Linked DNA regions of Homo sapiens: region 1 is linked to region 2. Evidence: fine-mapped expression QTL. A gene starts in region 2. The other region holds a variant in brackets. All regions are shown on one strand. Distances are between the middles of the regions.

Evidence for each region.
Region 1: its variant is fine-mapped to the expression of PROM1 in left ventricle (GTEx, PIP 0.94).

Annotation. Positions count from the first base shown.
Region 1 is chr4:16,027,635-16,033,011 of GRCh38, reverse strand. All of the region lies in intron 5 of PROM1 (prominin 1), which reads left to right. Among named protein-coding and RNA genes, the nearest start is that of PROM1, 54 kb to the left of the region's middle. The variant G/A (reference allele first, on the strand shown) is at 3,187.
Region 2 is chr4:16,081,210-16,086,586 of GRCh38, reverse strand. It overlaps PROM1 (prominin 1), which reads left to right and starts at 2,564. Exons shown (of 28, transcript NM_006017.3): 1 at 2,564-2,609.

The DNA of each region.
Region 1 (5,377 bases), 54 kb after region 2:
CTTACCTCCCAGCACAGCAGACTCCTCTTAATTAGCTATTTGCAGGCAGGCAGCATGCAGAAAAGAGAGATGGATCTGCAAGTTGATTTGCTAGTTGAGTCCAAAGGAATCTTGATGGACTGATGCAGTCCCTGAATTTGGAAATTTGAAAATATTGTAGAATGCAATTGACTTTCTAATAATAAACTCATTTTTCTTTTATGTGCTGTTAATCCGCTACCCTCCCTTAAGTCTGGAACACACTTCACGATTTAGGGTATTTCTGCTGCAGTGTCTGCTGCTTTCAAAAGTTTTCCAGTTGACTGGCAGATCAGAAATACATTGCTTTTAAGATGACGTTTTTTCGAGTCCAAATTAGATTGCTCATCTGAAGATGAGTGCGCCACAGCAGTGTTCCCTTGTTATGTTGCTTGGTTATTGTTCCACATTTCCTCATTCATTCCGCCACTGTTTCATGCAGCAGCAGAAATCAATGTGCCTATGACATGAAGGCACAGCAAGGGTTGGCCAACAGCATTCTCTTTGTTGTTTCTCCAAACACCACACGTGCTCAGTAGCCGTAAGATTTTTTTCAAGTTTTACTAAGGAAGTGATATTCAGGAATTTTAACAGAAAACAGTAAGTCCTGTGAGTTGGAGTTCTAGCTGCAAACCCAAGAAGGAAAGCCTTTAAGTGTGGCCACCAGCAGGGGTCTGATAAGATGTGTATGGCTTAGGGTGACCACTCATTGGAATGCAGTGTACCCATTGAAGAGGACTGGGCAGCTCTGGATTTGTTGATACCAGTCACCATGACAGATGAAGTGAAAAAGCAGGTTGCAGACCATGTGTAGAACATGGTAACTATGTTAAAAAAAAAAAAGATCAGGAAGGAGACACAAGCACTGGGTCATATTTTTATAGAGCAGATGGGATGTGAAAGGGTTGACAAGAAACTGGCAACAGTGGTTGCCTCTGGAAAGGAAATTGAGGGTTGTGGAGGGGAAGGAAGGAAACTCATTTCTTGCTGTAGCTGGGCTTTTTGTCTCTTTTGATTATGTACCAGGCTCGGGTATTACCTATTGAATTAACTTAACTGAAACTTGAACAGTGACAAAAAAAATCTTCACAACAGACAAAGGCCAATGCATTACCACTTACTCCAGGGCAGTGACTATTTAAGCAAAGACATACTTTTGCTCATAATAGTGGAATAATCGACCTTAACTATATATGTGTGTAAACAAGATCCAAGTGAATGTGTTAGCTGACTTCATGCATTGTTGGTTAGCCTGAGAGTTACTTGTTTTGTCTCCATGACATTGGGGTGTGGGCATCTCTGCCTGTCAATCTCTCTCTCCCTCTCTCTCTCTCTTTTCTTCCCTTTTCTGTCTCTCCTTGCCTCTCTGTATTTTTCTGTCACTGTCTGTCTCTTTCTCTGTGTCTCCAAAAATCATTTGATCCTTGCTATTTTTTTCACATTTGATTTTGAGAGGCAGTTTGGGATCAGGTCAGTAGTGGTCATTCCAAATGTCCCTGTCTCTCTCTGCTTTGTATTTGATATACTCTAAGGAATGCACAGACTCCTAGTTATAGGGGTAGTTACCTCTTTTTCAGCTACCAGAAGAATCTCGGTTACAGCCCTGAAACCTGTCAAACCCACCAGGGATCCCTGGTGTGTTTCCTGTAAGCCTGAAACTTACACGCCACATTTGTCTAGACACTTGCACAGCCATGTTTACCCGCTCCATACACCCTGGACCTCAAAGATGAGACTCGGATGTGAAAGCATCATCTGAAAATATTGCCCTTAGGGCTTCTAGTTAGAATGATTACTTATTTAACAAGTTAATAATTTTCACTTGATGTCAATACATATAGTATAATTTCAGGAAAATTCTTTATTGAATGTAGTTATTTATTTACCTGAATAAGTGTTTACATGTGTAATAATCGGTTTCCAATATATTGGGTTTCTTTGTTTTTTTGAGACAGAATCTCGCTGTGTCACCCAGGTTGGAGTGCAGTGGCGCTATCACAGCTCACTCCAACCTCCGCCTCCCGGGTTCAAGTCATTCTTGTGCCTCAGCCTTCCTAGTAGCTGGGATTACAAGCATGCGCCACCAGGCCCGGCAGATTTTTGTATTTTTAGTAGAGACGGGGTTTCACCATGTTGGCCAGGCTGGTCTCAAACTCCTGGCCTCAAATGATCTGCCCTCCTCGACCTCCCAAAGTGCTAGGATTACAGGTGTGAGCCACCGTGCCTAGCCACTACAATGGGTTTCTTTTTCAAAATTGAACTTTTATTTGCATTACATATAGTTATGTGTTATGCATGTTATAGTTCACTCTCAGCTGATTGAGTTATTTACATTATGTTGAAAATGCCAAAATATATCAACAATAAAGCTACAAAGTAAAAAATAAACTTGGCTTCCATTTATATATAAAATGAAAGCTACCGTTTTGTTAATTCTTGAGAACTCAGACCTATCAAATCAATATATGTTTTTTCTAAGTATATTTTAATTTAGAAAATTCTTTTTAAAAATGCATGCTGTGATTCTATACCCTCCTACACATTCAGTTAAAACAATTTTTTTCCCCACCCAAGTAAAACATTAATGTGAAAATTGTAATTTTAGATTTCAATATAATTAAACCAAAATTGATCAACTGAGATTGTGACAAAACTAAAACTAATTTGATTTCATATAGCACATTGAATTTATGTATAAATTATAAATAGGCTTAAATAAGAGTAGTGTGTGAATTTTTTTTTCTCACTTTAAATTCTGATGAGAATTTAAGCTTCTTTGCCTTGAACTTTTTGATTTACGGTAGCTATTTTAATGGCTTCCTTTTGAAACCCCCACTGGTTTGCAAATACCTTAAACATCATGAGTTGCATAATACCTACATATTGTTTGCAAGTAATCCAAGCTAGGCAGGAGGATTAAAGACCTGGGGAAAGTTAAGATTTCTCTATTATGAGTAGTTAGACAGGAGAAGAAAGAATGTCAACAAAATCAGAAGATTAGATAAAAATAAGAAGGACAAGAATGTCAACAAAATTGGAAGGCAGAAAGGGAAAGAAAGGAAGTGGAGGGAAAGATAGGAGAGTGGACTCTCTCTTGTTTAATGCAGGGCCTCTAGCTGACATTGACTTCAGCGGAGATGGGACACTATTGAGAAATAATCTTTGCAT[G/A]TGATTTTTAAAAAATTCTTTCAGAAACCCAGAGCAGTCCACCTGCCTTTTATTGGACTCAATTTCATTTTGTGGCTCAAAATATTACAATTAAATGCAGTTGGTTTTCAAGTTAGTTTTGAGCATCCTTTTTTATTTTAAAAAATGTAAATCTTTTCTTTAGGGGGTGAAGGGAAGACATAGGTGTTAAGGAGAAAGATGCCCTAGCAGATGTGCAATCTACGTGGGCATGTTCTTTCTCTGAGGGTTCCCAGAGGCAGCTGTGGAATGTGAGAATTCCGTAGACACTGACATATGTTTATGCAGTCTGTTTGACCATCAGCACAAGATCGAATTTCCACCCCTCACTGTAGACTGTTAAGCAGATGTGTCTTACTCCAGAAAAAGCCAACTTTCTTCTCCTTTCTTTCTTTTTGCTTGTCACCGCTGCATTTCTCATAAAGGTTATGGAAGGAAAAAAAAAAACCATGACTTGACTTCCTTTGTATGTTTCTAAGTTTCTGAGTATGATAAGCCAGTCTTGCTAATAATTCCCATGGTGAATTGAATTCCAGTCATTTTCAGGAAGCTGGCTATTTTCAAAGTTCATTTTATACTAGGACGTGATTGCCAATTCCTGAATGGGAGGCTACAAGGTTGTGGAAAAAAGATTGAGCTAGATGTAGCAGTCCTGAAAATCATGAAACTTTCTTCATGTGAATGAGGTCTGGTTACTTACAGTTTAAATGTAATTTTTCTGTTTTTTAATAAGAGAGCTGTTATAGACTGAAAGCATTTGTTTGGCTTTCTTTGGCTAATTTTATTAAATCAGTAGAAATTGGTAAGAGCAATACAGTTACAAGTTTTAAAGTAAAGGTTTAAAAGTAAGGTTTAGCCTTACTCTGTAAAAAGCTTGTAAGTGTATATGTGAGAAAATTGTTTTTTCCATAATAAAATATGGAAGATGTAAGGCCATAAAAATAAAAATTCCTATCTTCTGCTAAAAATTCTAAGAGATTTTGTTGTACTGCTTAAAAGCATATGTTTTAGATTGTTTAAAGGCATTTATGTCAAATGCCAGAGAACTGATATTCACTGAAATATGATTTCCTTTTTGTGTTAGGTAAATGTCTCTTGGTATCATTGTATTCTAATAATTGACTGGAGGTTGTTCAAATAAAAATATTTATTCACATACCTTTTTTTTGCTAAAAAATACACTGAACAACAGGGAGTGTCTAAATCAATACCTCAAAGCATAATTTCTTTGTTCTTTATTTGTGTTTGAATAGAAGGTTTAAATTTGAGATTGCACATGGAGACCATCAGTTGGTCTGCATAGTATTTAAATTTTTTTTGTTAGTTGCTAATATTTAAAAATTGGGATATTTCACATAAGAATCCAGATTCCCAGATTTTTGTGGATAATGGGAAGATACGGTAATATTTATCTGCCATCATGGTGGTGCTTTTGAGACCTGCAGATTTAGCTGCTCCTCCAGCCCATTTTTGATCTCCCAGCTCCCATGACCCCCTGCTACCCAATTTTTCTTTAATGCTTTCTGCCTGCTTACACAGGCATTAGAATTTAAATACAAAATTTACTTTGTGCATTAGTTTGAAAATCAGCTTTGAAAATCACTAACTTCTACTCTATAATTATACTTAGTAGAGATTTTTTTTCTTTTTCTCTTTAATAATGGGGTCTTGCTATATTGCCCATGCTGGACTTGGAACTCCTGGGCTCAAGTGATTATCCCATGTCGGTGTCCCAAGTAGCTAGGATTACAGGCGTGTGCCACCACACCCAGCTTAGTACAGTTTTTTTAAAAAATTATCAATGCTTTAATTTTAATTAGATCTATTATCGATTAGTAGAAATGTAGGTCTAAAATATGTAGCATTGAAATCGAGTGTTGTAGTGAAATGTATTGCAATTCATTTCACTGACTGATGATCTTGTGAGTAAGGACATTTATTCAATAAAGGCACAAAGACAGTTTCTGACTCACACTTAGACATACGGCCAGTCTTCTAAATAGCCCAAATGAAACCAAAGCTTGACCCCTAAACTCACCTTCCTGGAGCACCCGGTGTAGACAAGACTGCATTATACAAAGTTAACAAAGAAGTAGTTTCCACCTCTTTTTAGGAAAATTAAACATAGATAAGAATAAAGACACATTAGAGTCTGAAGTGAGACATATCCCAT
Region 2 (5,377 bases):
TCTGATGACTCAGACTGATGCCCTGTCCTACTGTGGCTAAACTGATATTCAAGATAACAAAGTCCTCTTTACTCTTCCCCCTCTTCTCTTCAAGCAGAAGGAATGGGTCTCTTCGTGCTGTTTTTAATCACTCCAGCCACTAGCATTGGGACTGATGCAGACACTAAGGATCCAAATGATTATTTTTGTTTTGTTTTTTTAACTGCATTGGGATTAGGCAACAGAAGGGTCTAATGTGGCTGAGAGTTTTTGAGAGAGGAGCATTTTTAGGAGGGTAGCTGCATTCCAAGTAGAGAGCTCTGCTGGGGTAAAAGAGGCATGAGTGCTAGAAAAGGGCATGCAGTGATGAAGAGCCACTAACAGCACTACCTGGGGTTGGGGTAGGGGTGTCACAAGCACTCCCTTAGCTCCCCTGTCTGGTGTCTCAGTAAGTCGCATGCCCTCCAAGTCTACTGGCTCTGAGCTCAGCATTTGGGCTTGCTTAGGAGTTGCTGTCCTTGTGGCCTAGGCTGCCTTTAAGGTTATTTGGGGCCCCAGAGCACTTTACTGAAACTCAAGTTTTCACCACTGGTATGGGCTATTTCCTCTGAGGGAAATTGGCTGAGTTCAGCCTAGTTTTGCTTTCTGCTATGACAGAGCAGTACTGAGTTCAATTCAAAGTCTCCCAATCACTGCACTCTCCCTTTCCCAAGCCACAAGGCTGCTGCTGCTGGGGGATGGAGGACTGGCGGCATTGGCAAATCAAAACTGTCTTTCCTGGCTTCTTCAGTGCCTCTTTCAGTAATATGAAATTAAAACCAGGTATTGTGGTTACTCACCTGATTTTTGGTTCTTATAAAGGTGCTTTTTGTGTGTGTAGATAGCAGTTAAATTGTGTTCCTAGCCGGGGTGGGGGGTGGGTGGTCAAACCTTCTATTTGACCATCTTGCTTCACCCCTTTCTACTGATACTATTGTTGTTGATATTATTAGGAATGAAAATGAGCCCTGTGAGTTATAATTGTCTTCATTTTGCAGACCAGGAAACTGAGGCTCAGAGAAATATTAAGCAGCCAAAGTCACAGCGATTAAAAGAGGCGGGACCAAACTTTGACGGAGATCAGGACCCACTCCTTTGAGAAATCACCTCTTTTGCTAGCTCCAGCCTAAAAGTGCTATCTAGGAGAAGGTTTATGGGACCCCAGCAGATGTTCAACCAGAAACTTCTGACCTGCAGGGGCTGCAGAGGGGAAATCTGCCCTGATTAGAAGAGATTTGTTTTCCACCCATATTAGTTTGATCTCACATTGCTATAAAGAACTACCTGAGACTGGGTTTCAGAGGCTGTACCGTAGGCATGGCCAGAGAGGCTTCAGGAAACTTACAATTATGGTGGAAGAAGGGAAAGCAAGCACATCTTCACATGGCAGAAGGAGAGACAGAGCGAGCAAAGGGGAAGTGCCACACACTTTTAAATCATCAGATATCCTGAGAACTCACTCACTATCATGAGAACAGCAAGGGAGAAATCCGCCCTCATAATCCAATCACCTCCCACTAGGTCCCTCTCCCAGTGAATTATAATTCAATATGAGATTTGGATGGGGACACAGAGCCAAACCATCTAACCTTGCCATGTCCTACTGTACTTTTTGGAAGTTTTCTGAACTAACATTTCTTGTCTAGAAATATACACACTCAAGATCAATCTAACTATTAAAAACAAAAAATGCTTATTTTCCAGTACCTGTTTTATGTTAGATTCTGGGGTAAAAAGAAAAAGGTACTGACTTAATGTTCCTGTCTATCATTCATTTGTAGCTTGTGCATCCATCCTTTCATCTGTCTATCCATATCACAAACATGTATTAAACACCTGCTGTATGCTAGACACCATCCTGAAGGTGCATTTCTTCCCTAAGTCTTTTTTTTGCCTGCCGGAGAGTACAGTATTCTCAATTCAAGATAAGAAGTGGTGAATAAGAGTGAAGTGCAAATTGGTGAGGACACTTAGACACCGAGTGATTACTTCTGACAGGTTTCCACCACTCAGCTAAGTAGCAAGGTGAAGACTCCGAGGTTGAGTTGTAACTCACAGAGCGGGAAGACCAATAGGCAGTGAGAAAAGAAGTTGCAGTGGCTTCACGTTATAGCAGATGCCTGTGTGTACACATGGGAGCGAATATGGCTTTATGCTGTTTTTCAACCGCTTCAGCCACTAGCATTGGTACTGCTGCACACTAAGGATCCAAATGATTGTTTTTTTGTTTTTTGTTTTGTTTTGTTTTGTTTTGTTTTGTTTTAAATTGCATTGGGATTAGGCAACAGAAGGGTCTAATGCGGCCGGGATGAGACAGGAGAGTTTTTAGGAGGGTAGCTGCATTCTAAGTAAGGGACTCTGCGGGGGGAAAAGAGGCGCAAGCGTTGCAAGAAGGGAGTGCAGGGGGTTGAGCAGGCACCTCTACAGGAAATGGATGCTGTCCAGGTGCTGGTGGGCGCCCCAGGGCTACGTGGCGAAGCAGCTCAGCCGGTCCAATCAGAGTGCGTCCAGGGCTCGGGTTTCGCGATCTTTAAGTGACTGAGGCAGATCCCCACGCGGCACCTGGCCATGCTCTCAGCTCTCCCGCCGCGGTGAGTATGTTTAAGGAATCCTTTCCATTACGGCGGCCCCATACCTAGGTCCCCGTCCGGGACAGAGGAAGCCGCAACGGGTCCCCCCGGGCACCCGGGCCTTTCTCCTGCCTCCCGCCACGTCCGAGGGTCCGGCCGCAGCGCCGCCTGAGCCCCTCCGCGGCCGGCAGTGGGAGGCGGGCTCTCCGAAAGCCGTCGCGGTGGTCCCAGAAGCCGGGTCATAAATAATTCACGAGCCAGGGTCTGGCGAGCTAAGGGAAGGGCGGCGGCAGCGGTGACTAGGGCGGGAGCAGGAGCGGGAGCCGGGTGCACGGTGAGTAGCTGGGTCCTCATCCCGGAGCGAGAGAGGCATCTGCTGACCAGGCGCGGGGCTGAGCGCACTCCTTCCACTGTACTGGGGGTGTACAGTGAGGAGTGGACGGGTTCGCTCTGCGCCCCCCTTACCCTAGCCATCTGCGCCGCCTCCCTGGCCCCTCAGCAGGTGGTGCGGGCCCGGACAGCGGCTGGGGGCCAGAGGAACTGCGGGGAGAGCGTGGTGGTGCCGGTGCCCGTCCAACCCAAACTTTTTAGTCTGAGTGGTGGCCCGCGACGCCCCGCTTGGGTCTTCTTTCCATCCACTGGGGATGGGGGCGGGGGTGGGGGTAGCCGGCGGCCGTGGTTCCGGAGCGGGAGTCGGAGGTGAGTGTGCGAACTGGACCGGGGCCCCAGAGACTTCGGACTCGCTCTCGGGGAGAACGGTGACCGAGGTGAGACTCGCCAGGGTCTTGGGAACGAGTCTGCGGTAAAGGAAACTCTAGGGATGGCCCCGGGGACGTGAGGCGCTGAGCTTCCCTGGCTGAGTGCGGAAATGGGCCAACACTGTGCAGCCGACCACAGCGGGAGTAGGGATATGGGGGTACAAAGCGAGGCCATCTCCCCGCGTCCGTGGGAGAAAGCATGCACCCCTGGCTTGAAGCACCTTCCCAGCCTCTCGCTCCACGGCCCTTCTGCTTGCATGCGCGGGGACCCGCGGCTATCGCTAGATGGAGAACTGGGGTGCTCAAGGCGCACCCTGCCAGAACACGCCGACCGGACAACAAAGAGGAGCGTGGACAGACCAGGAGCTTCACGGCTGTAGAAAGTCAGAGGCTCGGGATCAGTTTCCCCGAAAGCCCGTGTCTGGAGGGGCAGGGAGTCGGATCGGAGGGAGGAACTAGCTCCAGAACCCCTTCTCTCTGGCAAGATCGCCCCCGATCGGTGCCCAACAGGGGCCGCGGCGGGGAACTGGCGCCGACGCGCTCAGAGCAGCCAAGTTACTCCGGCAACCCCCTCCCCTGCGCGGCTGCGAATTCCTGGAGTCTCTTGGCTTCCCGCGCCCGCCCCGCCGCTCATTCTTTTGTGTCCCGCAGCTCGCGAGAGGCTTCCGCCCAGAAGGGAGCTAGGCCTGGAGGGGGCTTGGCCTGGAGGTGGTTTGGAGGTAAAGGGCGGGGAAGCCGGCGCCCCAGGCTTCATTCTGCAACAGGTTGCTCCTGGAGCCCGCTAAGGCGACTGACCTTTCTGGAGAAAGGTTTGCTGGAGTTCCTGAGGGCGGCAGCTGTTCTTTGTTAAGAAAGCAAGTGCACGATCGTAGTTCTTGAGTGCCCCCCGAGACTCATGCGACACGAACAACCGCTGCGATATGTTGGGTTGAATCATAAGAAATTGTCGGTTTTTTGGATGGAAGATGTGAATATCGTCAACCTCATATGATTCAACTTGTGTGATGTTACTCATTTTTCTTTTCTCACCGTCCTTTCTGTCCCGGTTATCCTAGGAGCCCCGGTGGAGTTGAGCTCAGAGTATTGATGCTAGCAGAAGCAGACAGACCCCAGATAGCCTTCCAGCTGCGTGCCAGGTGCTTTACCTATTAGATCGCTAGCCTGCGAACCCTATGCGAAATCCTCCTTTGACAGAGGAGCAGAAGAAGGGTTGGAGAATTCAAACAACTGTCATCTTGGCAGAGTTAGTAAGGGGGACCAGAGCCCCCTTACTGTTGCTGTTGTCTGTCTATTCAGCAGTGCCCTTTAGTTTATTCTTGTTTTTTTTTTCATGTGTTCCATAATTTTTTTCTAAACTTCCTTCTGATTTCTAAACTTTTCTAAACTTCTTTCTGATTTCTAAACTTCCTTCTGATTTTTATACGAGACAGTTTCTTTGTGTTTTAGTACAATGAGGTGAACAAATGCATCAGAGGACAAGCTGAAAACTTTAAACCAAGTTGGTACTGTTTAAAATATAAAGGAAATAGGTTTTTCAGGGAGCAAAGAGCTATTTCTGAGATTTGTTAAGGGTCAAGATACTTTGTTAAAACAGTGGAAGCTGAGTCGGGGGTAATTTTTATCAGATAAAGGACTTCTTGGATTCTGTAAGTTGCCTGTTCACTCTGATGGTAGTTTCTTTTGCTCTGCAGAAGCTCTTTAGTTTAATTAGATCCCATTTGTCAATTTTGGCTTTTGTTGCCATTGCTTTTGGTGTTTTAGACATGAAGTCCTTGCCCATGCCTATGTCCTGAATGGTATTGCCTAGGTTTTCTTCTAGGGTTTTTATGGTTTTAGGTCTAACATTTAAGTTTTTAATCCATCTTGAATTAATTTTTGTATAAGGTGTAAGGAAGGGATCCAGTTTCAGCTTTCTACATATGGCTAGCCAGGTTTCCCAGCACCGTTTGTTGGGAATTGAACAATGAAAACACTTGGACACAGGAAGGGGAACATCACACACCGGGGCCTGTTGTCAGGTGGCGGGAGTGG